Linked DNA regions of Homo sapiens. The protein of the gene in region 5 purifies or fractionates together with the protein of the main gene of each other region. This does not show direct contact. Each region holds a gene or a part of one and is shown on either strand. Other genes may lie near its edges.

What was found.
Region 1: the proteins of NUP62CL (region 5) and NAV1 purify together in Homo sapiens (affinity purification with mass spectrometry; one large-scale study listed by BioGRID and IntAct). This does not show direct contact.
Region 2: the proteins of NUP62CL (region 5) and KIF5A purify together in Homo sapiens (affinity purification with mass spectrometry; one large-scale study listed by BioGRID and IntAct). This does not show direct contact.
Region 3: the proteins of NUP62CL (region 5) and SUGP2 purify together in Homo sapiens (affinity purification with mass spectrometry; one large-scale study listed by BioGRID and IntAct). This does not show direct contact.
Region 4: the proteins of NUP62CL (region 5) and HIVEP2 purify together in Homo sapiens (affinity purification with mass spectrometry; one large-scale study listed by BioGRID and IntAct). This does not show direct contact.
Region 6: the proteins of NUP62CL (region 5) and FKBP15 purify together in Homo sapiens (affinity purification with mass spectrometry; one large-scale study listed by BioGRID and IntAct). This does not show direct contact.
Region 7: the proteins of NUP62CL (region 5) and ZNF518A purify together in Homo sapiens (affinity purification with mass spectrometry; one large-scale study listed by BioGRID and IntAct). This does not show direct contact.

Annotation. Positions count from the first base shown.
Region 1 is NC_000001.11:201,824,481-201,827,784, forward strand, and holds the end of NAV1 (neuron navigator 1), read left to right. Parts: 3' UTR 1-2,489; downstream 2,490-3,304. UniProt on the Homo sapiens protein: May be involved in neuronal migration.
Region 2 is NC_000012.12:57,573,818-57,577,949, forward strand, and holds part of KIF5A (kinesin heavy chain isoform 5A), read left to right. Parts: intron 1-1,266; coding exon 1,267-1,455; intron 1,456-1,822; coding exon 1,823-1,940; intron 1,941-2,269; coding exon 2,270-2,334; intron 2,335-2,451; coding exon 2,452-2,561; intron 2,562-2,943; coding exon 2,944-3,045; intron 3,046-3,895; coding exon 3,896-3,956; intron 3,957-4,132. UniProt on the Homo sapiens protein: Microtubule-dependent motor required for slow axonal transport of neurofilament proteins (NFH, NFM and NFL). Can induce formation of neurite-like membrane protrusions in non-neuronal cells in a ZFYVE27-dependent manner.
Region 3 is NC_000019.10:19,012,650-19,016,781, reverse strand, and holds part of SUGP2 (SURP and G-patch domain-containing protein 2), read left to right. Parts: intron 1-4,132. UniProt on the Homo sapiens protein: May play a role in mRNA splicing.
Region 4 is NC_000006.12:142,941,842-142,946,417, reverse strand, and holds the start of HIVEP2 (transcription factor HIVEP2), read left to right. Parts: upstream 1-1,241; 5' UTR 1,242-1,319; exon of another isoform or gene 1,320-1,617; intron 1,618-1,828; exon of another isoform or gene 1,829-4,576.
Region 5 is NC_000023.11:107,203,480-107,208,241, reverse strand, and holds the start of NUP62CL (nucleoporin-62 C-terminal-like protein), read left to right. Parts: upstream 1-1,808; 5' UTR 1,809-1,969; intron 1,970-4,762.
Region 6 is NC_000009.12:113,186,268-113,190,399, reverse strand, and holds part of FKBP15 (FK506-binding protein 15), read left to right. Parts: intron 1-1,908; coding exon 1,909-2,011; intron 2,012-2,500; coding exon 2,501-2,607; intron 2,608-4,036; coding exon 4,037-4,132. UniProt on the Homo sapiens protein: May be involved in the cytoskeletal organization of neuronal growth cones. Seems to be inactive as a PPIase. Involved in the transport of early endosomes at the level of transition between microfilament-based and microtubule-based movement.
Region 7 is NC_000010.11:96,154,002-96,158,133, forward strand, and holds part of ZNF518A (zinc finger protein 518A), read left to right. Parts: intron 1-1,324; 5' UTR 1,325-1,375; exon of another isoform or gene 1,376-1,922; 5' UTR 1,923-2,046; intron 2,047-2,195; 5' UTR 2,196-2,321; coding exon 2,322-4,132.

The DNA.
Region 1 (3,304 bases), on a different chromosome or scaffold from region 5:
GGTGCATGTCTGCTCAGCCTAGCCCTGGAAGTGAGCACTGCCGGCCACAGATCCTGGGAAAGGTGGTAGTAACCCAGAAGATGTAGCCTTGAAGGGAGGATACCTATCAAAATGCCAAAGCTGCAGGGACACGAAGACGGTTGAAAATTCAACCTGTGTATACTAGATCCTTCCAGTTTGATGGTTTGGTCATTCTTCTTCATGATTATACCATGGAGAATTTTCTGTGACAAGGGTGGTCATGGAAGTAAGTGAGTGATCCCCTGGTTTCTCATTCCTTAAAGCAGTGGTTCGCAAAGTATGGCACAAGACCAGCAGCATCAGCAGCCTTTGGGAACTTGTTAGAAACGAAAATTCTCAATCCCATCCCAGATCTGCTGAATCAGAAACTCTAATGAGAGGACCCGGCAATCCACGTTTTAATAAGCCCTCCTGGTGATTCTGATGCACACTAAATTCAACTGTTTTAAAGGGAAAGCCCTTTATAGTATTGGAGTTCCCACACTGAGAGGCTTTGGGGCCCAAAATAAGAAGGTTCTAGGTTGTCATTCAGACTTTAACATTAATTTCAAAGTCACCTTTCTCATGCTTCCTTGTGTTTCTGTTTTTCCATTTATGATTTTAACAAAGAAAGGTATGTGTGCTTTTGGGTGGAAGTTAGGAGAATGTTTGTGTCTTTCCTAGTTGAATACAACCTTCAGAGAAAAACCTTATGCCTTGGAAATTACTACCTGGCACACAAAGGGGCTTCAACAAGGAAAAGCAGTTGGAGGTCTCTTCCAGATTGCTCTTCTGCCGAATTATTTGTATCTATTCCGAGCTGATTATGTAATAGGATGGAAAAAGTAAAAAAAAAAAAAAAAATCTAATTTGTATTTCCATGACAACGTGTTCTCCCAGCAACATCCCTCTCCTTTATTTGAGTTATAAAGGGCACTGCTGGGCCTGAGAACCAGGCCAGAACCTCCTTCTGTATGGCAGCTAACAGTGTAGGGCTCCAGTATCCCAGGAAGGCCCCTTATCCACACTCCACTCAGCTCATAGGAGAGTCTTGCATAATGAAGACACAGACCTGGGCACTTCAGTCCTTGTGCTCCTCCTCTCTTTTCCCCACAGCAGGACCTGGATACAGAAGTACTCAGCCAAGGTGACAGAATAAAATCCTTTTTTTGTTGTTTTCTGTTTGTTTGTTTGTTTTGGAGAAGGAGTCTCGCTTTGTCACCCAGGCTGGTGTGCAGTGGCACGATCTCGGCTCACTGCAACCTCCGCCTCCCAGGTTCAAGCGATTCTCCTGTCTCAGCCTCCTGAGTAGCTGGGATTACAGACGTGCGCCATCACGCCCAGCTAATTTTTGTATTTTTAGTAGATACGGAGTTTTGCCTTGTTGGCCAGGCTGTGCTGGAGCTCCTGACCTCAGGTGATTCACCTGCCACAGCCTCCCAAAGTGCTGGGATTACAGGCGTGAGCCACAGCACCCTGCCAAATAAGATCCTTTTTAAAAAATATCTGAAAAAAGCTTCATATCTTTACAAACTCATAAAATAGCTGATTGGGCCATGGAGGAGATGAGGCTGTTTAGAACTGGTTTTGTTTCAAGTTTGTCAATTTTCCCTGTATGAGAACTTGGGTAAAGCACAAAGAAACATACAGTGCTAGTAACAGGTCTCCTGCGCCCTGGAACTAAGTGTTTGGAGGAAGGACTAAACCCCGGGGGAGGTGAGTATAAAATAATTCCACTAAGATCACCTCCTCAGTCCCCAGAAGGCTGATGGTGGATCCTCTGGCCATCTCCTGTGGGGTCTTACTGCTCCTCTGCCATTTCTCTATGCCTGAAGACACGAAGATGATATCAAGGCAGAGCTACCATATCGCAGCCAGTCTCTAGGCTACTGCTGTGCAGTGGCTCCCACTTTCTAATGCTTTTTTGTTTTTGCTTTTTCTAACAAAACAATCTTTTTTCAAAATGAATTCCAACCCCTGCTAGCTTCCTTCCCCGCCTCCATACTGTTTTAGGCAGCACCGTTTATGTGACAGAGTCCGTGTTTCTCAAATGCATGGTGTTCCTCAGGTGGAGAGTGGGCAGAAGTTTTTGCAACACTTTTTTTTTAAGTTATTGGGTGCAAAATCCCAAACCAGGATATGTGTATGTCTGTGTGTTTATGTTTTTTATTTGACCCTCCCCTCTTTCAACCTACCCCCTTTTATATCTAATGTAGAAAAAGCGAAATTGAATCTGGAAAGCAAACTGTTGTATATAGTTGCGGTAACAATCATGAAGAGAGAGCCGGGCTGTCCCCTCAGTAATTCATTTTAAATAACAAATTATTTAAAAATAAAATTCATGCCAGAGCCAGCTGAAGAGGCCTTCCTTCATCACCACTGAGGCCACCCCCAATCTGGGCCCTCTGTCCATCTGGCATGTCTCCTCCCAGCAAGATTCATCTGTTCAATGCCATTTGCGTTTCAATAAAGTTATCTCCTGTACTGTCCACTGGTTCTCTAGCTCCCTCTCTGCCTGGTTTCTGTCTCCATTTATCTTGTGGCCCATTCCTTGATTGGCAAGGCCAGACTGCTTGTGGTCATTTGCCTAACCCAGAAGTAACCTGAAACCCTAAGCTAGAGTCTCCTGACTCCCATGGTTGGGGGTGGGAGGAACCCCTGCTCGCACATTATGGACATAGAATCCTTCACCGGATCTCAAAACATCCAGCCCAAACATCAAGGCTCCGGAGTCCTCCATCTGGGTTGCTGCAGTGTTTGAAAACATACCACCCTCTTGACTTTGCTAAATTTTCTTCTTGGGGTAAAAGTGAACTGACCTATTAGAAGCTGTTGTAATCAAGTTCAACTTCTTTTGGCCACTTCAAGAAAGTAAATAGGCTTACTATTCCCCATTGCAAAATTGAAGGGTCCAAGAAGCAATCTTTTCCCTATGAAATTGTAGTAACATAACTCATCTCTGCCCTCTTAACATGGGAGGTGACAAGTGTGTTGAGAACTCTCTTCAAGCCAGTTGCAGTGGGTGTACCTGTAGTTCTAGCTACTCTGGATGCTGAGGTGGGAGGATCACCTGTCCAGCCTGGGCAACATAGCAAGACCCCCCCAACTCAAAAATAAATAATTGAGAAAGCTTTCTTTTGAAGTAATCTTCTGATGAGATGACTTAATCCCTGATTGTTACCAGTCCAGCATCCACAGTCTTGGAAGTGACCTAGGATTTGGTAACTCGTTTCCTTTGCCATGTGAGAATGAACTCACTTGATAAGGGTTCCTGGGAACCATTTTGAAGGCACATAACCTGAAC
Region 2 (4,132 bases), on a different chromosome or scaffold from region 5:
AACTCCGTCTCAAAAAAAAAAAAAAAAAAATTTGGGAGGCCGAGGCGAGGTCAGGAGATTGAGACCATCCTGGCTAACACAGTGAAACCCTGTCTCTACTAAAAAAATACAAAAAATTAGCCAGGCATGGTGGCGGGCGCCTGTAGTCCCAGCTACTCAGGAGGCTGAGGCAGGAGAATGGCGTGAACCTGGGAGGCGGAGCTTGCAGTGAGCAGAGATGCGGCACTGCACTCCAGCCTGGGTGACAGAGGGAGACTCTGTCTCAAAAAAAAAAAAAAAAAGCAGCAGCAACAGAGCAGTGCTTGCAGTAGGAGTTAGAGGTGGGGCATAGGCACAGAGTTCAGAATGAAATATGCAAATCTGTGGATGTGAGAATAATCTGGGTGATCAAGGAGATCAAAAGAAAATCATGTTGCTTTATAAGATTTATTTGTAAGTGGGGGACTGTCAGAATTGGATTTTTTTTTTTTTTTGAGATGGAGTCTTGCTCTGTTGCCCAGGCTGGAGTGCAGTGGTGTGATCTCAGCTCACTGCAACCTCCGCCTCCCAGGTTCAAGCAATTCTTCTGCTTCAGCCTCCCGAGTAGCTGGGACTACAGGCACACACCACCTCTCCTGGCTAATTTTTTATGTTTTTAGTAGAGAGAGGGTTTCACCATATTGGCCAGGCTGGTCTCGAACTCCTGACCTCGTAGTCCACCCACCTCGGCCTCCCAAAGTGTTGGGATTACAGGCGTGAGCCACCGAGCCCGGCCCAGAATTGGATTTTTTTTTTTTTTTTTTGAGATGGAGTCTCACTCTGTCGCCCAGGCTGGAGTCCAGTGGTGTGATCTCGGTTCACTGCAACCTCCGCCTCCTGGGTTCAAGCAATTTCCTGCCTCAGCCTCTTGAGTAGCTGGGATTACAGGCATGTGCCATGATGCTTGGCTAATTTTGTATTTTTAGTAGAGACAGGGTTTCACCACCATGTTGGTCAGGCTGGTCTCGAACTCCTGACCTCAGGTGATCCACCCACCTTGACCTCCCAAAGTGCTGAGATTACAAGGCATGAGCTACTGCGCCCAGCCAGAATTGGATTTTTAAATGCAGGCGGAGGAATTTAATGTGAAATGCCGCTGATAGAGAGCTGCTAAAGGTCGTTTGGAAAATACCCATCCCATTTGAGTCCCTGCGTATGTGGGTGTGTATGGGTAGGTAGAAGGTGGGAGGGAACAGATAAAGCTTCCCAGCAGCCAAGAAGCATCTCTTCCTCCTTTAATCACCTTAGCCAGTGGAGATCAGTGGGGCCATCGAGGAGGAGTTCACTGTGGCCCGACTCTACATCAGCAAAATCAAATCAGAAGTCAAGTCTGTGGTCAAGCGGTGCCGGCAGCTGGAGAACCTCCAGGTGGAGTGTCACCGCAAGATGGAAGTGACCGGGCGGGAGCTCTCATCCTGCCAGCTCCTCATCTCTCAGGTGAGTGCCTAAGTTTGAGAACCTTCAGATGCCATGGGAGAAAGAAGGCTACTCTGGGGTTATGGCTAAAACTCCTAACACCCACCTTTATGTCAAAGTTCTGGGGTCAAGTGAAATCAAGGACAGAAAAGCTGGGGTGGCAGGGGTGCAGATCAGGGCCAAAAAAGTAAAGGCTCAGGGCGGGTACTGCCCCCTGAGCCATGGGAGCTAAAGGAAGAGCCCCATAGGAATGGCCCCCAACCCTGCACCCTCATGGGAAGTGTAGCAGGAGGGAGGGCTGGGAGGAGAGCTGGAGTTGGAGATCTGTGTGGCCTGGGTTTGTGTCCTTTGCTCCATCTTCTTCCTCTCACCAACTTTCTCCCACCAGCATGAGGCCAAGATCCGCTCGCTTACGGAATACATGCAGAGCGTGGAGCTAAAGAAGCGGCACCTGGAAGAGTCCTATGACTCCTTGAGCGATGAGCTGGCCAAGCTCCAGGCCCAGGGTGAGGCCTTCTTATACCTCCATCCCACTGTCCAGGGCAGAAAAGTCAGAAACATCAAAATAAATCACCCCAATAATCACTCACTCAAAGCATTAGCTTGAAATCATGGATGCCAACTCATATGTTAGCCAAGGTTTTGCATGTAGCTCATTTTACATTAACCATACACCCTTGTTCTCTGTTCCTGCTATATCAAATTGGACAGTCCTAACACAGAAGAACATCCCTGTGGGTCCATTCCCAGCCCTGCCTGGAGTTCTGGTCACAACGTGAAGTTCTTTCCGAAAGAGGTAGGTTTGATGTCAGCTGTCTTCCCCTCTTTCCCTTAGAAACTGTGCATGAAGTGGCCCTGAAGGACAAGGAGCCTGACACTCAGGATGCAGATGAAGTGAAGGTGAGTAAGGAAGGTGTCAGGGACAATTGGGGCCTGGTGTGGTGAAAGCTGTGCTGGCCCTCACAGAGCTTGTTGCTGGGAGTCTGGCCTTTGAGCTTGGGGTGGGGTTGTTTGCAGAAGGCTCTGGAGCTGCAGATGGAGAGTCACCGGGAGGCCCATCACCGGCAGCTGGCCCGGCTCCGGGACGAGATCAACGAGAAGCAGAAGACCATTGATGAGCTCAAAGAGTAAGGGTTCCCAAGGGCGACTCCAGCCCCTCCCGGGTCCTGTCACCTTGCTGTATTGACTCACATGTCCCCTCTGGGTCTGATTCTTTAACATCCATGTGTCATTCCCTCAACAATGCCACAACTTCGTAGCCCCACCTCAGGAGACACATGGAATAACGACTAGTCCCTATCCTTGAGGGTCCCAGGATTAGAGAGGTCAGGGTTCCTGGCTCTGTCATGGAAACAGTGGCCTGAGTCTGCCTCTGGTATCTGAAGGTGGACACATCAATTCTAACTGGACTCACTCGTTCAAAAAGGAAGAAGTTTGAAGAGCTGGCCTTCCCTTCCCCCTCATTAACATCTTTCTCCCCCATCTCCATTACCTTCTGATGCTCTGTAGCCTAAATCAGAAGCTCCAGTTAGAGCTAGAGAAGCTTCAGGCTGACTACGAGAAGCTGAAGAGCGAAGAACACGAGAAGAGCACCAAGCTGCAGGAGCTGACGTGAGTGGCATGGATTTACCTGTAAAACTACAGCCTTGTAGGCTCAGAACTGTGAACTCAGACACGCTTGCAGAGGCAGGACACACATGCAGACATGATAGGGTGACTCATGGGAAAAATATGATGGGGTAGGGACGGGACCAAAAGGACACTCTCAGCAAAGACTGCCGTTGAGTATTCACCAGTATGGAAGGAGGTTTACGTGTTCTATTCAGTGTAAAAACAGGTTACAAAACCATATGCATGGTATGATCCCATAAAAATGTATACATGGATATGTAGGCATAGAAAAAAGTCTAGAAAGGTGGACACCAGAAGGTTAATGTTGGTTTGATCTGTAAATAGTAGAATCATAGGCTTTTTATAAAAACTCACCTTATGTCTCTCTTTAAAATTCTTTTCTAATTTTTGCACAGTAAACATGAGTAACTTGTGTAATAAATAATAATAGGCTGGGTGCGATGGCTTACACCTATAATCTCAGCACTTTGGGAGGCCAAAGCAGGTGGACTGCTTGAGCTCAGTAGTTCGAGACCAGCCTGGGCAACATGGCAAAACCCTGTCTCTACTAAAAATACAAAAATTAGCTGGGCATGGTGGCATACGTCTGTGGTCCCAGATGCTTGGGAGGCTGAGGTGGGAAGGATCCCTTGAGCCCAGGAGGTTGAGGCTGCAGTGAGCCCTGATTGTGCCACTGTACTCTATCTAGCCTAGGTAACAGAATGAGACCCTGTTTCACAAAATAACAATAATAGTAATACTTAAATGGAGATAAAAGTAATAGAGGAAGAGGCAGGAGGAAGGAGAGTCCTGAGGGATCTTTCCATTTCCCTTATTTCTCTTGCTACAGATTTCTGTACGAGCGACATGAGCAGTCCAAGCAGGACCTCAAGGGTCTGGAGGAGACAGTTGTGAGTGGTTCCCTTCTGTGCCAAATTCACAGGACTGGGGAGTGGGGAGGCTTCATTTCTTCCTAACCCTATTCCTCCTGCCCTTTTGCAGCCATTCTGTAGCGTAATCAAGACACATTTTTTCCTAAAGGATAAGTGACTCACTTGATTATAGAGACTGGAGGTACCTATAATTC
Region 3 (4,132 bases), on a different chromosome or scaffold from region 5:
TTACTGATTTAAGCACTAGCTGGTTGAATCCTCATAAACAACGTTGGGAGGCAGGTCTCTTGCTATGCTTATTTTACAGACAAGAAACTTTGAGGCTCCAAGAGCCCTCTTGCCTTGAGGATCCACAACTAGTAAGAGGCAGAGTTGAGATTCAAATCCAGGGTCTGTGGTCTGAACCAGTGTGCATGTTGAAGGATTGTCAGATTGACAGATGCAAGCAGATACCGACCCTCTTGGTAAGAAGGCATCCAGACTTAGAAGGCCCAGGGGCACTTTACAGGTGGTTGATAAGGTGATTAGGCTGGAGGAATAGGAGGCCCTGAGAGGCCTGGGGGCTGGTGCCTCTGCCCCATGACCCCTGCACATGGCCCAGTGGTCTCATGACCACTGATAACCAGGGGCAGCAGACGGAAGCCAGAGTCAGGGGTATGTTTGGATAGGGGGCAGGGCAGGGTACAAAATCAGAAATAAGCGGCCGGGCATGGTGGCTCACACCTATAAGGTGGGTGGATCACGAGATCAGGAGATCGAGACCATCCTGGCGAACACGGTGAAACCCTGTCTCTACTAAAAATACAAAAAAAAATTAGCCGGGCCTGGTGGCGGGTGCCTGTAGTCCCAGAAATAAGCATCAAACTAAGAACTGATATTTGAGGTAAACCAGTATCATGAAAGAGCATCACCAAACTCAACCAACTCCTGACACCCTAGAAGACAGAGTCACTATGAGAAAGAGGAGGTGTAGTCTATAAATATGTATGTGCAATGAATAGTCTCAGGTAATAAGAGTATATTGTATCCATGAAACAGACACTGGTTGCTATGAAAACGATTCTATTAAGGATCTTGGAAATGAAAAATAGATTGAAATAAAAATCTCAGCGGTTGGCTGATAGAATAGATCCTGAAGAAGGAAAGATTTAGGAGTTGGTCCCAGAGACTTTATCATCCAAAAACTCCTTCACAAGGAATTACCTGGCTGGGTGCAGTGGCTCACGCCTGTAATCCCAACACTTTGGGAGACCGAGGGGGACAGATGACTTGAGGTTGGGAGTTCGAGACCAGCCTGGCCAACATAGTGAAACCGTGTCTCTAATAAAAATACAAAAAATTAGCTGGGCATGGTGACAGGCGCCTGTAATCCCAGCTACTTGGGAGACCGAGGCACAAGAATCACTTGAACCCGGGAGGCAGAGGTTGCAGTGAGCCAAGATCGCACCACTGCACTCCAGCCTGGGTACAACGGAGCATGACTCTGTCTCAAAAAAAAGAGAAGGAATTACCAAGAGACTGTAAGAGGAAAGAGTGTGATACAAAAGCACAGCAATAAGTAAAGAAACTGCTAAACTTAGGTTTCTGGTGTGCATGTTTGAATTCTTAAGTCAAAATGCTCCTTGTATGTTGTATTTAACAAAACAGTCAATTGAACGCATAATGAAAAGCCAAATGTTTCTGCTGTGACCTGTTTCCATGTTCCACTCCTTGAAGGCAGTCACTTAGTTCTTCAAACTACTTCTCACGGCTACCTCTGTATCTCTTTTTATTATTTATTTATTTATTTATTTATTTATTTATTTTTTGAGACAGAGTCTCGCTCTGTCCCCCAGGCTGGAGTGCAGTGGCGGGATCTTGGCTCGCTGCAAGCTCTGCCTCCCGGGTTCACACCATTCTCCTGCCTCAGCCTCCCTAGTAGCTGGGACTACAGGCACCTGCCACCACACCCGGCTAATTTTTTTGTATTTTTAGTAGAGACGGGATTTCACCATGTTAGCCAGGATGGTCTCAATCTCCTGACCTCATGATCCTCCTGCCTTGGCCTCCCAAAGCGCTGGAATTACAGGCATGAGCCACCGCACCTGGCTTACCTCTGTATCTCTTAATAAGCCTATGTTGCTTTTTCTTGACTGAACAGTTTTATGCATGACCATTGACATTCTCTGAAGATATATGTGGATTAATAAGTTCTTTTTTTTTTTTGTTTAAAGAGATGAGTTTTCATTCTGTTGCCCAGGCTAGAGCACAGTGGCATGATCATAGTTCACTGCAGCCTCAACCTGGGCTCACAAAATCCCCCTGCCTCAGCCTCCCAAGTAGCTGAGACTACAGGAGTACACCACCGCATTCAGCTATCAGCTTTTTTTTTTTTTTCTTTTTTTAAGAAATGGGTTTTTGCTCTGTTGCCCAGGCTGGTGTCTAACTCCTGGGCTCAAGCGATCCCCCAGATCACTGGGGTTACAGGCATGAGCCATCATGTCCAGCCTTAATAAATTCTTTTTATTAGTTAGCAAGTGAAAAAGTCAGACCTCTAGGAGGCAGATATAAGAAGGGCTTCTTATCTCCACCCTCTGAGGGCCAGCAGAGATTTGAGACCTTCCACCCTCACACCCCACAAGCATGATTTGTTCCCACTGGAGCCTTGTGGACAGAACTGGCCATTGCCTCTTTGCCGAGGTGACCTGCCTCGTGTCGTGCACTAAAGATGTCAGAAGAGCCAGGTGCGGTTACTCACACCTGTAATCCCACCACTTTGGGAAGCCGAGGCGAGTGGGCCGCATGAGGTCAGGAATTTGAGACCAGCCTGGCCAACATGATGAAACCCCATCTCTACTAAAAATAAAAAATTAGCTGGGCATGGTGGTGGCTGCCTATACTCCCAGCTACTCAGGAGGCTGAGGCAGGAGAATCACTTGAACCCAGGAGGCAGAGGTTGCAGTGAGCTGAGATCGCACCACTGCACTCCAGCCTGGGCGACAAGAGCAAAACACCGTCTCAAATCAATCAATGAATCAATCAGAAGTATAGACAGACACATCCACTATGGCTTTACTTCCTTGTTTGGAACACCAAGGGGCAGGCTTCCGTCCTTTTCTATGAGAGAGTGCAAAGCATCAAGCCTAGAAAATGATAACAACAGTGCAGGATATAAAGCTGAAGGAATATGTCATACTTTGTTTTCTCTCATCTTCTAAATTGTCCCCTGGGAGTGGGCCAGCCCTGACCATGCTCTCCAGGGAGAGCCCACCAGGTCCTACGTGTTCACACACTCAGGAAAACAAGTGGCTAAGAATCCCTGTGGTCTAGCCTCAGCAGGATTGTCCAAGCACCCCAAAGTTAACATAAAATCTAAATAATTGATGTTTGGGGTGAAATAAAAGAAACTAAAATCCCAGATGATCTAAATATGTGAGGCACAAGGGGAAGGAGGGAGGTAGGTGTGCAGGCCTTTGTCTTGTTTGACATGAGGATAGAGCTAAAGGGTAATTCTGGATATTGATACAAAATAAAAGTTTAGGTATGTGTGTCGATTAGCCATTAAAGGAACAGAAGTGAGGTCTATAACTTCCGTACTACTATAGAGAGAAAGAAGCAAAAACACAGGAATTGGAAAACACAGAGATGGGAAATTGCATAGCAGGTGAACGCTACCAAAAAGAAAGGATGTAGAGAATTGTTTAGGCAAAAAAGACTTTAAGGAGAACAGCACTAAAAGGAGCAAAAGAAGTTCCTGATAAAAGGGAAAGTCATCACGAACATATAGATTGTGAATCTTGGTGCCTGCACTACATAGCTTTGAGCCATGTAAATAAACAACCTTTAGAAATCATTTAAGTCCAGAGCTGGGTGCGGTGGCTCATGCCTGTAATCCCAGCACTTTGGGAGGCCAAGGTGAGCAGATCACCTGAGATCAGGAGTTCAAGACCAGCCTGGCCAACATGGTGAAACCCCATCTCTGCTAAAAAAAATTCGAAAATTAGCTGGGTGTGGTGGCGGGTGCCTATAATCCCAGCTACTCGGGAGGATGAGGCTGGAGAATCACTTGAATCCAGGAGGCAGAGGTTGCAGTGATCCGAGATTGCGCCACTGCACTCCAGCCTGGGTGACAGAGCGAGACTCCGTCTCAAAAAAAAAAAAATCATTTAAGTCCAAAACCATGATAAGAGGAATTGGATGAATCCAAAACCATGGTAGGAGACATTAATGTTTCTCTGAAATGCGTAGACGACGTAATCCAAATAAGGTTGTGGAAGATTTTATAACACAGGAAATGAGCATAAACAGAGACAATCTGCTAATATTTGTTGAGCGGTTAATGACTACTAGGCAGTTTTCATAGCACTTGCCTCCTAGTGAA
Region 4 (4,576 bases), on a different chromosome or scaffold from region 5:
CCTCTTCCTCCCTCCCTCCCTCCGCCTCTCCCCCCGTCCGCCCTCGCCGCGCACTCCTCCTAGTAACTTCTGTTCGGGGAGGCGCTGCCAGGAATAACCCGGTGCGTCCACAGCCCGGGAGGGGAGGCGGCCGCTGCGGCTCCCGCACGCAGACAGCTGCGGCCCGGGCCTCGCGGCTCCCGCCTGAGCCCGGCGGCCCCTGCCCCGGGCCCATCTCCGTACAGTGTCAGAAAAATAAATAAAGGCAAGAGGAGCCTGGGCTGGCGGTCGGGATCTTTTCCCTCCCTCCGCGCCCGCCCTCCCTCTGTCCTTAAGGAAATGCTACCAGACACCCCCCACCAGACACGCTCAGCCTTGGCGAGGAGCGGCCGCCGCGGCAGCGAGAACAAGGGCACCAGGGGGGTTTCCTCCCCCTCCTCCTCTCCCTCCTCCTCCCCGTCCTCCTTCTCCTCCTCCTCAGCGGTGACTTTCCAGGTGAGCGGCCGCCGCGGCTGCGAGGATCCCCCTCGCCCGCTGGGGCTCGGGCCGCCGCGTCGCGCCCTCCTCCCGCCCCTGTCACCCGGCGGCGGCCGGGAGCTGACAGCCGCCCGAGGGGCTCGCGGCCCGGAGGCGGGCGGCCGGCGGGAGGCGGGCTGGAGGTGAGGGGGTGGAGAGGAGGAGAGCGGGGCGCCGCCGAGCGCCGTCGTTCCCCGCAGGAGGGTCTCCGCACAAACATCTTCGGTGACTGTGGCACAAGTCTTTGCCAAGTTGTGTCTTGGACCTTGACGCTCCACGGAGCCCAGAGCAACTTGGAGGGTCTCCCGGCTCGTTCACAGCGTTCCTCCACGTCTCGCGTCTGGGGTGCTGGGTGCAGCCTCGGGGTGCGCGGAGGGCGGACCGGCCACCGCGAGAGCGGAGCGGCGGGAATCTAGGTCCCTCCTCGGCTCGGTAAGTGGCCTGGACGCTGGGTTTTTCCTGCCTCCTTCGGCGCTGGGAGCTTGTTTCACTTTATATTGGAATCGCCGCCGCCGAACTCCGTCCCCCGCTCCCCGGCGTGTGCCCCCAGCCCCTTCCCGGTGGCCCGAGGGTGAGGGTCGGAGGGGGCGGGGATGGGGGAGACCGCGGGAGGGGTGTCGGGCGCGTGGGGAAATGCGGGGAATACCCTGGCCGCGGATCTATGCAGATGAGGGGAGGCTGCTTTGCGTAATGTCCTGGGGGGAGGGGGCCGCGCGGGAGCGCTGGAGGCAGGAATGTGCCTGCTTACTAATGAGCGACGTGCACCGGCGCGCACGGCCCGGCCACCGCTGCGGCTGCGGCGGCCGGCGGCGGCCCGTTGTCAGGTAGCGGGGGAGGGGGCCGCGGCGCGCGGCGCAGGCGGCCGGGCGGGCTGGCGGCGCGAGGCCCGGGCCGCCGGCCTGCGGCCGAGCGAGCGCAGCGAAGGCGCTGGCTCTGGGCATTTCAGTGACTCCCTTTACCTCCCGGGCAAGGAAGGAAGGAAGGAAGGAGCGAAGGAAGGAAGCGAGGAAGGAGGGGACTGTCTCGATGGAAGGTTCAGGCGGAGGCGCCCTCGCCTTGCGGGTGCACCGGCTGCAGAGCGGCTCTGGCCGCTGCCGGCTGGACCCGGGCGCGTGGAGACGGGTGGGGGCGGTTTGCATGCGTGTTTGTCTGTCCGTCTGGCGGGGGATCGGGAAGGGACATGTGTGTTTGGGCTGTGCACTGTGGGGAACTGGGTCTGCGCCTTTATGTCTGTTCCCTGAAGTGGGTGGAACGTTGGCCCGTTCCGGGAATGTTCCATGACGTGGTGCAGCCACAGGAAGGGGGTTAACGAGGGGCTCTCTGCCGCGGCGGCACTGCCGGCTGCTATCAAAGCAGATGTGCTGCTGCTGCTCCTCCTCCTCTTTCACCTCCTTTCACCCCCACCCCCCGCCTTTCCATTCTGTGCCTCTGGTACTGGTAGGGGTGAGACAGGAAAACATTGCTCTGGGTGTGTGCGTGTGTGTGTGTGTGTGTGGGTGTGTGGGGGAGGGGGTGCTGATGTGCATGTGTGGGGTCTGTCGTATTTGGTGGGGGGGGGGGGTGGACTCCAGATCCGCTCTGCTACCCCAGCTGTTATCACAGATCGGTGCGCTTTATACGCATGTGCCTCCCGCGTTCTGTCCCTCTTACATAACACATCCAGTGCAGCAGAGGACATGAGAAAATGCGACCCCAACCCTCCAAGCCCAAATTGGGTGAGGGGATAGAAGGTCAGGAAGCGTCCCTGGGTGTTGTCCTTCAGGGACTTGGTTCCCAGTGGGGGAAAGGAAGAAGGGAAGGAGGGTTTCTTCAAGTGGCTCCTCTCATCTCTGACTTAAAAGCATCTAACTAAAAAGGACTGCAGGCACTAGTCTTCCCTAACGGGAAAGCTTGTAACTAGCTACACCAAGGGAACGGGGGCACTTTAACCTCGGGAGTGCGGAGAAGAGAGAGGGTCCTTAATCAAGACACTTGGAGGAGAGAAGCAATAATGTGTGGGCGGCGGATGGGGGGCGCTGGGGATGACTTCGAGGAGACCAGAGGAATCTCTTGATAATAGGTTTCACTGGAGGCCTTAGGACACCTGTAATGGCTTAGCATTCACACAGGAAGTTGTGTGTGCAACTGACATTGCAAAACCCTTATTCTCTGCAGAGTTATTTAGGCCTAAAATGAATATAGAAAGGCTTGTTTCCTGTACTTTCATTATAATGGAAAATTTGAGCTGATTTTTCTCCTTCCTTTTCTGCCATTTTAAAAATAACTCAATTTACCTCCAAATGAATATTGGTACTCGCCCCCAACCCTAAAGCTGGACCTCAATAATTCACAAGAGATCTGTGTTTTTCTAGCATACCCAGAGCCCTAGTCAAGGGCTATTGATTTTTCTCCTCAATACAGTTGTTTCTTTTGTAGTGCATAATCAAGCCCAGACATTACTTGAAATATTAATAAGATCCATTTTAATTAAATTTGCAATGATCTGTCCTCCTAGAAAAAGGCCATTTAACTTTATTAGAAACGTTTCCTCCAGTGATATAGTAATATTTGGTGATATTTGCCCTTGAGCAAACCAAGTTATTTTAAATATTTGCACATATAGATCCCATATGTTTGCTACATATGTAGCAAATGTCTCATTGCTTTTTCACCTTATAAGAGTGCCAGAAGCAGAATTTTAACGAAGTAGACTGTGGAATGAGTAGATTGGGTTTGATTTTTAGGATATAGGCCAAATGGTTTATCAGAACAGAAATGTCCTTTCTGTGACTAAAGTGGGTATCATTTTCATTATTAAGAGAAAATTCCCTGTGGAACCCTAAGGAGTCATAGTACCAAATGACAACTGTACATTTGCATTGTGAGCTGAAAGGGATTTACCAGTATTTACTTAATGATAGTGTGTTTGTTTCAAGTGTCATAATCCCTTTGACCACTAGGTTTGAAATATGCAGTATATTTCTTATATACAGAAATGTATTACAATGATGAATCTTTTGAACATTGAGACAATTTCTTGCGTCGAGCATAGGTCGGGTATAAAACAAAATTTGCTTATTTGCATCTGTATTTTTGTTACAGTGACTGTATTTTATGTGGCTAACTTTATTAGAGATGGCTTATATTTATACAAGGGTATTCAAGAGTAAATTGATGTGTGACTGATTCGGGGACAATTTTGGGAATGGTGGTATATTAATGATCTTACAAATGTAAGATCTAACTGATTTTTAACTGGTTAGATCCTTGTAGAGGTGTTTGGTAAAATACCACTAAAGTACATAAAACATTTCTATATTCCTATTTAACATGGAATGTGAAAAATTTACTATGTGTATATTATCACATAGGAAAATAATTCTCTTTGATTACATTGAAAGATTAAGCAGCAGAATATTTTGATTGATCAGGCTCCTTTGCATGAGATGTGTTTGTGAATGTTCTTGTTACCATGAAAACAAAACAGAGGACAGTATATAGGGAGACGTTCCTTGTGGAGTAATGGTGCATGTGTCTGCTTGAACTTTTGGCACTTTGTCACTATTCAGAAGATCTGTTTGACTCTTTTATGCTGATTTAATTTAAAATGAAAAATCTTATTCCAGAATTTGCCATTTTTTTTTTTCAAAGCAGGGCTCATTTTAACAGCAGCAATAACAAATAACTCTGTGTTGTACACTGTATTGGGTTTCAGCTTTTGAATTATAACAAGTACACTATTTGGGTTGGGTTTCAGTTTTTAAATTATTATCAGTAATTAGCTAAAGTCAATTTGAAAGCTTCACATAGGAAAAGTAATTTTAAAGAATGATAGAAAATGTTAGTTGGCATGAGTGAAACTATAATCCATGAGGATGTAAAGTAATTTAATAACTGACATGTAATTATTATCAGAAGGGAAAAGTGGCTAAGGTCAATCGGATATATGGCTGTGGATCAGACAGGCTGCTCATCTCCTATTTGTTAAAAATAAACACCGTTTTCATATTTTGGTATGTGATCAGCATCAGCGGAACTCTCTGTTGGTCTATACATTAGTTCTGTAGGTGGAGAAACGGTTCACAGTTTAAATATCTACCTG
Region 5 (4,762 bases):
TGTTATTACTTGTAGAGACGGGGCTTCACCGTGTAGCCCAGATGGGTCTCGAACTCCTGAGCTCAAGTGATCCCTCGCTTAGGACTCTCAAAGTGCTGAGTTGACAGAAAAATTAGTTTTAATATGGAGAGGCAAATCCTTGGTATCTGTAGAACCCATCCTGAATTATCGAATGCTCTATAGTACATTTCAGACAAACAATACACTTAATATTTTTTTCTCTTCGTTTATCTATCTCAAGTCTCATACTCCACCTCTATCTAAAAAGAAGTTGGAGGGACTCTTTTTAGATACAGGTGGAGTATGAGAACTCTTTTGTTTTTGAGACCACATCTCACTCTGTCGCCCAGGCTAGAGTGCAGTGGCGCCATCACGGCTCGCTGCAGCCTCGATCTCCAGGGCTCAGGTGATTCTCCCACCTCAGCATCCAGACAGGCAGGCGCCAACACACCCGGCTAATTTTTGTATTTTTAGTGGAGACCAGGTTTCGCCATATTGCCCAGGCTGGTCTCGAACTCCTGACCTCAAGTGATCTGCCCGCCTCGGCCTCCCAAAGTGCTGGGATTACAGGCGGGAGCCACCGCGCTCGGCCTGGCAAATTTTCTTGCTGTGCTTTAAATTTTCTCCCTAGTCCTATTTTTTTCCTTTCTTCAGGAAATATGGTCTCTGTTCTGAATCCTTATCACAAGAAGCTCTTAAGGAGTAATGACTCCTCCCTCTTTGGTCAAACTAGGTTCTCTCCCTTCACTCAGATTTAATTTTTTTGGTCACACTTCCCCACCTTTTGATAGTTACAGTCAAACGACATGTAATACTTACTCTCCCAATCAGCCCTTGGCGAGTAGCAGGTCTTGTAGGTACAAGTAGTCTCTGCACAGTACACTCGGGCCCACCAAGTGAAGGTCTGATTACTTCTCACTCCTCAGCTTATCTAACCAAGCAACACTGGAACCCTCAGACCACAGCGTTCAAGTTGTCGCACAAAGGACATTATTCACGTAGTAAGTACTGGGGCCATTTTTTTTTCAGTCTGAAGTGTGATATCCCCCAAAACATTTCCTAACCAAGGCATGCTAGGCCAGGATAAATCGTGCCTGCACATATAAAACAGAAGGGTACAGTGGCTGCTCCAGTTTGGAGCACCCAGGTCCTCCTATAAGAAAATATGGTTTACATTCCCAAATTAGTCATTATTAATGGGAAGGGAGAACCAATAAGTGCATGTGAGAGTTGAGAGAAGACCAGTTGGGAAACTTTCAGATGTTTACTTTTGCCTTCTGACAGTCGATCAGCATCCATCTTTCACTCACATCCTGTAAAACCGAGTTTTGTTAAAGCAGCGTCCTGTTTCTAGAGTCTAGGATAGCGGGATTTAGTGAAGAGTCTAGGATAGCGGGATTTAGGGAACGGGTCTTCTCCACCTTGCCCAACTTGTGGCTTTTTGGGGTATCTCGCAGAGTTATAAATATCTAGAGTTCTCCCTAGTTTTTCTGATAGCCACAGCATCTGAGGACCCTGTCTTTCCCCGTCTTGAGGTTCGAGTTTCCTCACCTTGGTCAGTTTTCCCGTCTCTGGCTAGGCTCCGAAAATAGACTGTGCAGAGCGTGGCGTCTCTCCGTTGCTAGGGTAACAACTTTGTTTTGTTCCCGCCCCCCACCTGCCAACCTCCGGGTTCCCGCTTGACTTTTCTGGCCAATCATAGAAGAGTCTCATCTGAGACTGCACTGGAATCGACCAATCCGAGCGCGTCCAGGTCAGGGTCACTGGTCGCCCTTTCTAGTTAACCAGGTCGACCCCTTTTAAGCCTCAGTCTCGGTTAGCTTCACTTCAGCGGGAACCTGCCCACTAAGGAGGCCGATTCTTTCCGGCTCGAGCAGGTCCGGACCCGCCCCTCTGGCGTCTAGCAGTCTCGGAGGCCTGCCCGTATAGTTCAGGGCCGGACAGCGAGCGGCGGCGACTTGCCAGTAAGGTAAGTTTGTGGGGTTTTCGTTTGTCCCGTTCGTCAGCAGGCTTCGCTCTCTTTTGCGCTTTTCCCGCGCGTGAATTCCCGATCTGAGGACTCGAACTCCAGCCGATCTGGAGAGACGGGGGCAGAAGGGTAGGGTCAGTGGGCCGGGGGTAGAGAAGGTTTTGCTACAGTCCTCCACGCCCCCAGCCTTTCACGTCTCCCCCACGCGACAGAAACACGTGTTGTGCTTCTGTCTTGGCTTGTCGCGGGCGATAGTGTGTTTGTATGTGTGCAGGTGGGATCGCGCTTTTTATTCTCCTCTGTAGGCAAGGCTTCCGGGCCCCAAGTCCCCGGGGGAGCACCTGGTCAACTGCCACCCGGTTCCTGTGGGGCACTGGCTTGAGCTACGTGTCGTTCCCACTCTAAGGAACATCGCGACTCCGGGAGCTCTGCTTTTCCCGCCTCGGAGTGGAGAAAAGCAGGCGCGCCGCTCGCTTGCCACTGCTAGGGAATCTGGTTGTCTTAAGTTCACTTAGAGATAGAGTTGTTACCCTAGTTTCCCATAAATTCCGTGGCTTGGTTTTAAACAAAGGGGCGGCGGGGGGATGGCGTAATAAATATTTGGAGTATTCAGGACTGATTAGCCATGATCAATAGTAGGACCCCACAGAAGGTTTTAATGAATGGTTACTTTTGGTTATTCAGGTATTGGAATTTGATTATGAATGAACTAAACTGCTTCCCTTCTTTCTATATACCATGCATTTCTTAACGACCATCCCATCTGGCATAAGAGATAGTGAAGTTTGATTAATTTGTCCCTTCTACTTGTTCTTATCTACAGTAAACAAAAAATGGGGGTAGAATAAGGTTATTGGCTAAAGTAACGTTATTGGCCTTTTGGCCAAATTACCAATACCTTAATTCCGCTTATTACTGTGAATGATCAGAGTTTAGCTGTCTTGCATTTTGCTAATTCACTAGATACTTGTGGAGCTTAAATTATAGATATTATGCCATCTCCTTCTTCTTGCTTTTTTGTTTTTATTCTGCCTCACTGTGCATTATTCTAAGTCTGTAATGCTCAGCCGGTGTTTTTCAGACCTTTTGACTGTGACCGACAGTAAGAAATAAATTTTATATTGTGACCTAGTACACATGTAGACAATATATAACCGACAACTGTTTTTACAGAAACAACACTTAACACTTACTACTTGCAATATACTCTGATAATTTCCATTACATTTTAAAAAATGTACACCACAACACCCTAATGATTTGTCCCTAGACCTTTAGTTTTCAAACTTGTGTGTGCACTTTATTTAAAATTTATTTAAATAAATAATTTATTTAAAATTTATTTAAATAAATAATTTATTTAAAATTTATTTAAATAATTTATTTAAAATTTATTTAAATAATTTATTTAAAATTTATTTAAATAAATAATTTATTTAAAATTTATTTAAATAATTTATTTAAAATTTATTTAAATAATTTATTTAAAATTTATTTAAATAATTTATTTAAAATTTATTTAAATAATTTATTTAAAATTTATTTAAATAAATAATTTATTTAAAATTTATTTAAATAAATAATTTATTTAAAATGCAGATTGCCCTGGCTCCCTCCAGAAATTGGTTCTGTGGTCTAGTGGGACCCAGGAAGATATACAATATAGCATATATGAAATACTTGGTACAGTGTCAAGTGCACAGGTGTTCAGTGAATATTAGTTTTCTTCTTGGGGAACAAATGTTATTTATCTTTAGGGATATAATCAACTCTTCAAGGTTTCATCTGTCCCTGGCAAGGTGGCGTCCAATACTAAGAACTGTTTTCCCCAGGTAGAGGAAGTAGCGGGGTGGGGGATGGGTCCAGGATCTGAGATTAATCTTTAAGCAGTTGGCTTCCCTGAACAATGTCGGAAATACAGAAGCTTAGAGGTTGAGGAACATAAGGATTAGAGAGGTTCTGTGACTTTCCCAGGATTGTGCTGTCAGTAAGTGGATCTCCGAGACTAGAAGTCACTTCCTTATTCTAATATTCTTGTCCATTCTGCCTTGATAGCAGCCGCAATCTGGAGGCAGTGGTTGAAGCAGAAAGAGAGCTTCCCTAACTTGCCTATCCCAAAGGAGAGACAACTGAATTTGACTCCTAGTTCGGTTTTAAAGTAATGAAACTTCTAACCTGCACATTGTGCACATGTACCCTAAAACTTAAAGTATAATAATAAAAAAAAAGAATAATGGTGAAATAAAGGTTTTTTTAAAGGGAAAAAAAATAATGAAACCTGAGAGATCTAAAATATTTTTTAAAATACACCCAAAGGTTTCTGTGGATTTATAGCTATGAAAAATGGATATAGTTTAGCTAATTCTTTTATATAGAGTATTTTAAAACACTGGTTAAATAATTTATTAATGCAACATTGAAAGAAATTAAAGATGAAAAATCTCACTCAATTCTGCTACCATAATATAACTGATAATTCTGTTCCCCTCCTATCTTTATCCACATGTACCCATGTTTTTACATGATTGTGATCCTTTTTCATATACTTTTTTGTTATTTTTATTTAATACTGTTTTGGAAATTTTTTTCTGTGTTGTGATGATCTTTATATTTTGCATTATTAACAGCAACCTAATATTTCGTAGAGTGAGTTGGCTGTAATTTACTTAGCCTAACTAACCAACAACAGAAAATAAGATACTATGTGTCCTTTGAAAAGGGAGATGTAGCCAGGTGCGGTGGCTCACACCTGTAATCCCAGCACTTTGGGAGGCTGAGGCGGAAGAATCACTT
Region 6 (4,132 bases), on a different chromosome or scaffold from region 5:
GTGATTGTTTTTTCTCTAAGGCAGAATCATTATTTAGAGAGCTAATATGCAAAATGATACAGATTGGTATTGGTACATGTGTTTCTACTGTGATTAGTACTTCCCTGAGAGATGGAAGCAATTTTGTAGATCTTTTACAAGAACTGGGCAGTTTTCAGTAGTTAATTTAGCCTTCTTTACTAGAATCTCTGTTGTTACTAAAGATCACTCTCTGGGCAGCATGATGCCCAATCCATAGCAGGTGTTCAATTCATATTTATTGAGCGAATGTTTAGATTCTTTTGGGAAATGTTGGTCTTCTCGCTGATGTTGCCTATCACTAAAGCTCCAACTAGTATGTCTTTTGACTTTGTATGTGGTATTCTTGTGTTTGTTTTCTATTTAGAAGTTCAATAATTTTATTGAATTCAAGTCTGTCAATTTTCTCCCCTTGTTATTTGCTTTTGACATTATGCTTAGAAAGCCTCTCCACTTTCAGATTATAAATATCACATGTATTTTTAAAGATATTGATCAATATTTTATAATTAGATCTAAATTTTTAATCCATTTGGAATTTGGTGTATGCTATAAAGTAACTTAATTTTAACTTAATTCTTCTCTAGTGGTTAGTTCTTTATTGAATATAATCGTCCTTTCTCAATTGAAGTGAAATATATAACTTAGACTGATTTTTAGTATTCTTTTACTTTGATAGAAAACAAGGAAAGGGCGATGGTCTTGAAAAAATTTTTTCTGGAATATACTTTATATTTTACATTTTTGTTTTATTTCTTGGAAAAGCTCTATGTAGATTTAACATCTTAAAGGAAGATAGGATTTCTGAGGCCTATTGTTATAGGATTATTTTTTTCTGGTCTGGAAATGCAGTGTAAATAAGAATATTTTTATTAAAAATTTTATGTGCTACTTATTCATTTTAGAATAATTTAAAATTATAGAAAAGAAACATATTGAACAAAAAGGGCATTCATCTTTATATATTGCTTTGTAACCTGATTTTTAAACCTAATGTTGTATCATAAACATTTACATTAACATAAATGATTTAAGTAAATAAAGTGGTTTAAAGGAAACCCAGTGTTCCATTATATCATTTTATTATAATTCCTTTCACTCTGTTATTAGACATTTAGGTTGGTTAAGAGCTGTAGAAATCTAAAACTGGGATGTTTTTCTAGAAGAGAATATAAGGGGACAAGGTGAAGTTCTAAAGTAAAAGAATGTCTGAAACTTTGGTCTTTGAACTATAGCATAGCAGATTACAGTCACTGTATATTGTGCCTCAAGATTTTCTGTTTCTTATATGAAGCAGGAGGTAGAATAACTTTGTTTAGAGTTATAGCTTTGATTTTATGAAAAGCTTTGGTTTTATGAAAATAAAGAATGTTGGAAAAACATCCTAAAACTATATTATCCAAAAACAGCATGTTAATCAGGTGCAGTGAATCCTACGTTATCTGATTTTCATTGAGTACCTTGAGGACTATGGGGATGATTTGTAAGAAGCGAAGAGGCTGGATTATTTCTTGCAAAAGACCACTTTTTTTGTGGGAATAGATTAGATTTGTCTTAAGGCAGTTACTGGCTTGGAAAATGATACATTCTGAAGAGTGGTTAGTTTAGCTGCTTCAGACAATAGAACATCAACCTCTGAGAATATTTGTGGAAATTAACTATATTTACTTATTCAATATGATTATAGGGAGAAGGACTCTTACTTTATTGCATAGCAGAGTGCTTTTTCTCCACAACCCACACCCTCAACTCTTGGCCTTCCGCTTACCTTTCCTTCCTCTTCTTTGCCTAGAAATCCTGTGTTGGAAGCAGGTTTAGGGCAGACAGTCAGCCTCAGTCTTCAATGAGGGACCCCGTACAGAGTAACCCAAACGCTTGTTCCTGTTTCAGGATGTGAACACTCTGCAAGGAGGTGGGCAGCCTGTGGTGACTCCGTCCGTCCAGCCCTCTCTTCATCCGGCCCATCCAGCGTTACCACAGATGACCTCACAGGGTAAGGAACCTCTCTGAGGCTCTGTGGCCTTGAACTGGGTCAGCATGAAAATTATCGTCACTGTTCCTTAAACTGTTAGGCTGCATTGTTTCAGTACTGAGGACTAAAGTGTAAATGTAAGAGTGTGACGCTTGTCAGTTTGTCCCTGGGTAAGGCATTTTCATACCCAGAGATGGACCTGGCTGCTGGTTGTGACTTCTGCTGTGTTGCACTGTCAGTTTTGGAAATCTGCACTCAGCTATTGAGACATCTCCCTGGGTGTGTTCTGCACTTCCTGTCGGGTGGGATCCTAGGGCTGAGTCAGAAGCACATGAGAGCACCCAGTTTCCTTCCACTGGCTCATTCCTGAGATTGCAGTAGAGCTGAGTGTAGGGAGACTAGGCAAGGAAAATAGTTGAGTCTGAAGCATGATAGTATGTAAGGTGCTAGTCTAGACTCACACCAAGAAGCAAGGGTGGATAACAGTGAAAATGTCTCCCTTTATCTTAGCACCTCAGCCATCTGTTACTGGGCTCCAGGCACCTTCTGCTGCCTTAATGCAAGTGTCATCTCTCGATTCCCACTCAGCTGTATCTGGAAATGCCCAATCCTTTCAGGTAACATTTTATAACCGTATTAATTATATCCTATAATTTGCTGTGGTTCTAGTCAGTCTCTTTTCTTCTTCCTGTACATTTCATACAGTAGCAGTTCCCCAAAGTCAGAGTTTGTAATTTTTTTCCCTTCCTTGGTTACCACTTTCTCATCTCTAAACCAGGCAAAGGATAACCTACGTTCCAGTGTCATAAAGATTAAATGCAAGAACAAGTAGAGCCCCTAGTACAACGTAGTAAAGATGCAATCAATGTTTGTTTCCTTTTCTTTTCACACATATCCAGTTGAAGCGTGTATATTCGCGTTCTTCTGTATTCTTTTCTACTAAAAGTTGGCAGGCTAACATTCTGCAGTATATTCAGCAGAATGGTATGGTTTAAAAGTGGAACCATGTGGAAAATGTAGCTTGACTCTGCTATCTAGTAAACTTTTCTTAAAGAAGGCCTTTTTCCTGTTATCACAGAAAACAATGGCAGCAGCCTGTTTGCCAGGGGTAGCAGACCCTTTCTTCTGCCTCAACACACTTGGTGGATAAGGCATACTGTCACTGGGAACAGCTGCTCACTCCTTGTGATGCTTAATGGAGGTGTGGGAATGATGGTGGATAGGCTATGCCTCATTAACATGGGGAGTCTCGAAACTGGAAAAAGTCCCACTGTTGCCCTCTTTCTCCCCATCCCTCCTCTCCTCCATGGAGAATTACTATGCTGTAGACTAAGAATTTTTTTTAAGTGGATGCGTAGTTATATCTATCCCTGGAAATGAGCTAGACTTCCTTATTTCAAGGAAGAATTACCATCCTCATTAAAATAAAAGCTGCTGTTTATTAAGCGCTTACTATCTGTCAGGCCTGTAACTTACTAGCTTTTCAGAACTTTACCTATCTCACTTCATTTAGTCCACAGAACAGCCCTATGAAGTGATATTATTATCTTCCTCTTACAGTTGAGGTGACCGAGACTCAAAGGAACATGAGAGCTCTTGGTCTCGTGGATTAGCTTCAGAATCTAGCAGGGGAGAGGCATCCTTGGAAATTGGCAGATTTGGTTTGGAATCTCAGTGAGCACTTCTTCTTTAAACTCAATGGAAGCTAAGCAGAGTTTATTAATCTAAAAACTTCTTAGACAATAGGCCTGATAATGGGGAATGAATCCCTGCTTAATTATCTCACCAGATGACTGGGTAGTGACCTAAGATACACTTTCTTCAGTTTCTGGGTAGGATTTTAGTGACTGGTTTCCCCTGGGATACATAGATAACTCTCCTGCTGCAGTCCTTACCAACTGCCAAACCCAGATCTCACCCATCTCTAGCTTCAGTAAGTTTGAGTCTCCTCCCAGCTCATCCACTTTATTCCACCAAAGAAAAATGTGAACAAAAAAGAAAGACATGAATGTTTTATCAACCAGTGGTAACTCGTCAGTTTCTCAGCCCTATGCAGGTATGCAAGCCTACGCTTATCCCCAGGCATCTGCCGTCACCTCCCAGCTGCAGCCCGTTCGGCCTTTGTACCCAGCACCGCTCTCT
Region 7 (4,132 bases), on a different chromosome or scaffold from region 5:
AGACAGTTTGATTTCCTACCTCTTCATATATTCCATTTCCCCACTCTTGCCCTAGTCCCTGAAGGAGAACTGAACACATGATTTAGTAATACTATTTTCTTTTTAATCAACTCATATAATTCTTTCTACACCCAGCCTGGGCAACATGGCGAAACCTCATCTCTACAAAAAATACAGAACATTAGTTGGGTATGGTGGCGCATGCCTGTAGTCCCTGCTGCTCTCAGGAGGCTGAGGTGGGAGGATCACCTGAGCCTGGGGAGGTCAAGCCTGCAGTGAGCCGTGATGGTGCCACTGCACTGCAGCCTGAGCGACAGAGTGAGACCCTGTCATCAATCTTTTCTTTCTTTCTCTTTCTCTGTTTCTTTCTTCCTTTCTTCCTTTCCTTCCTTCTTTCGTTTCTTTCTCCTCCCTCCCTCCCTCCTTCTTTTCTTTTTTTTCCTTCCTTCCTGCCTTCTTTTCTTTTTTTTCTTTTCTTTTCTCTTAACAAAGCAGTGAGTTAAAACCTGACTGTTGGATTGTAGAGCCTTCAATTAGTGTCTAGTTCATTCTCCTAGAAAGACAAGTGCTCTGCTTGGCTAGTCATTCTGAAATCATCTGTAAGCCCCATCTTAGTTTAAGAATAGCCATCAGATAATTCTTCTCAGCCTTTTCTCCTGGTTTCCTGACAGTTCCAGTTACTTTTTCAGCTTTTCTTCTTTTAGGGCCCTAAAAACCCTTCATGAGGCCTTCATCTTGTGTTACCTTTTCTTTGTAATACTAAAGTTTTATGACAAACATCCCATTCTGGATTCACATTTTACTGTATTAGTCATGGCATGTAAAACAATTCAATAATTGGTACCCTTCTGATTAATTTATTATAGATCTCTTAATATGTAATTCAACTTTTAATGATTCCCTCAGTAAAGGATTTCTAAAACAGTAAAGTTTGTAGGTATTTAGATTAATTGAAGTTTAAAGCTGAGACCTTTGGATAGACATTATGGATGAGGAGCTTAATGTGATTTATACTATGTTTTGTTTAGCTTATCTGATTTTGTCTATTCATACATATATATATATATAAAGCACAAAATTAAAAACATGTAATTTTTCTAATAATACAGTTTGATATATTAATGACTGAACCTTCAGTATTCAGATTCCTGTCTCAACAATATATTGTTATGTCCCATACGTGGTAATCACATAGAGTAATAGTGGTAGCTGTGATTTATATGGCACTTTAAAGGATATTTTTACATATATTTTCTCATTTTATCTTCACAACAACCTTGTGAAAGACATAGGGGAAGTACTAATTTTTCCCCCCATTTTACAGATGAAGGAACTGAGACACAGAGGTTGAGACTTGTCTAAAGTAACATGACCAGTAAGTGCTTGAATTAATGCAGGTAGGTAGTGATGGGTATGTTCTAATCTGCCAAGGGCTTTTCCTTGCTGTCATCTGGCTTGAGTTCTGAGGATATAAATTCATATAGCCAAAATGGTAGGGAACCAGAAAGGTAATGAGTAGATGGACTTTAGGACTACACTAGGGAAATGGTGCTGCTGTTCTTTTTAATTTCTTCCTTTTTGTTCTTTTTGTTTGGTTTCTAACTTGTTAGTAATGATAAGCAGATACCGTCTTTGGTTGTTTCCGTTAGATGAATGAAGCTTTTGTTTTAATTGTAGATTATCCCTGAGGAACTAAGGAAATAGAAAATCTGGAGAGAAGTCTGTTGGGATTCTCACAGGGAATAGCTATTAGATCAACTAAGCAAATGAAAAAGTTAATAGTATATGGATAAACCACATGTGTGTAATTGGAACTTCTTAGGATTCTAAGATTTTTAAAATCTTGTTTAAAAACTGTATTATCACCTTAATATAAAAATCTTAGCGCTTGAGCGTACTTACCCAACTGTGGTTTTCTTTAGATGAGGAAACTGAGGTCCAGAGAAGTTGAAGTTTTCCCAAGGTCACACAGCAGAGCTGGAACTAGAGCTTGCATTTCCTGACTTCCAGATTAGTGTTATTTTTACTTCAAACTATTACTTCTTGGTAAGCTGTTCTTAAAATACTTAAAAAGTCTTTTGTATATTTAATTTATGTTTTTGATTAACATTCCTACTTTGTGCCAAAATGAACTTACAGATACGAATTTACTATTATTTTTGTGATGAGAATTTCAATTCTTTGTTTAATTTTAGGTGAGTTATTGTGGGAAAAATCCTGTATATTGAAGATGTCTCTACACAGTATCGTTTCCTGTTTAAATTACAGATAACTTCAAGAGTTTTCAGAAAAAAAGAAATTGGGACTTTTTTGGTTAAATCATGCCATCTGAACAGAAACAGTTATTTTGTGATGAAAAACAAACTACTTTAAAAAAAGATTATGATGTGAAAAATGAGATAGTTGATAGGTCGGCACCTAAACCAAAAATTTCAGGAAGTATTCATTATGCACTAAAAAATGTGAAAATTGATTTGCCAAAAATAAATATTCCAAATGAAGTCCTATTGAAACATGAAGTTGACAAATACAGAAAATTATTTCAGAGTAAACAGCAGACTGCAAGAAAATCTATCAGTATAAAGACTGTAAGCTGTGTAGAGGAGTGTACATTGCTTCATAAGTCTGAGAGAGCTGAAGAAGAGGGTGTAAAAATGTCTGCAAAAATACTCAATTTCAGCTGTTTAAAATGCCGAGACAACACTCGATATAGCCCAAATGATTTGCAGAAACACTTTCAAATGTGGCACCATGGCGAATTACCTTCATATCCTTGTGAAATGTGCAACTTTTCAGCAAATGACTTTCAGGTATTTAAACAACACAGACGAACCCATAGAAGCACTTTAGTAAAATGTGACATTTGTAACAATGAGAGTGTATATACTTTACTGAACTTGACAAAGCATTTCACATCCACACATTGTGTTAATGGTAATTTTCAATGTGAAAAGTGTAAGTTCTCCACCCAGGATGTTGGCACATTTGTTCAGCACATTCATAGACATAATGAAATTCATTATAAGTGTGGTAAATGTCATCATGTATGTTTTACCAAAGGAGAGCTTCAGAAGCACCTTCATATTCATTCTGGTACTTTTCCCTTCACTTGTCAATATTGTAGCTATGGTGCCACCAGGAGAGAACACCTTGTAAGACATGTTATAACTTTGCACAAAGAACATTTATATGCAAAAGAAAAACTGGAAAAAGACAAATATGAAAAAAGAATGGCAAAGACTTCTGCAGGACTTAAGCTAATACTGAAAAGATATAAAATAGGTGCATCAAGGAAGACGTTCTGGAAACGTAAGAAAATTAACAGTGGAAGTGACAGAAGTATAGAAAAGAACACTCAAGTGCTTAAGAAAATGAACAAAACACAGACTAAATCTGAAGACCAGAGCCATGTTGTTCAAGAGCATTTAAGTGAAGAAAAGGATGAAAGACTACACTGTGAGAATAATGATAAAGCCCCTGAATCAGAGTCAGAGAAGCCAACTCCTCTGTCCACTGGGCAAGGTAATAGAGCTGAAGAGGGACCAAACGCTAGTTCAGGTTTCATGAAGACTGCTGTACTAGGACCTACACTGAAAAATGTAATGATGAAAAATAATAAACTAGCAGTTTCCCCTAACTATAATGCTACGTTTATGGGCTTCAAGATGATGGATGGAAAACAGCATATTGTATTAAAATTGGTGCCTATCAAACAAAATGTATGTTCACCAGGCTCACAGTCAGGTGCTGCAAAGGACGGTACTGCTAATTTGCAGCCCCAGACTTTGGACACTAATGGATTTTTAACAGGAGTAACAACTGAGTTAAATGACACAGTTTATATGAAAGCAGCTACTCCATTTTCATGTTCATCTTCTATACTTTCAGGGAAAGCAAGTTCAGAAAAAGAAATGACTTTGATATCTCAAAGGAATAATATGCTTCAAACAATGGATTATGAGAAAAGTGTATCTTCTTTGTCAGCAACATCAGAATTGGTTACAGCATCAGTGAATTTGACCACAAAATTTGAAACAAGAGATAATGTTGACTTCTGGGGAAATCATCTCACTCAGAGTCACCCCGAGGTATTAGGTACCACCATTAAAAGTCCAGATAAAGTCAACTGTGT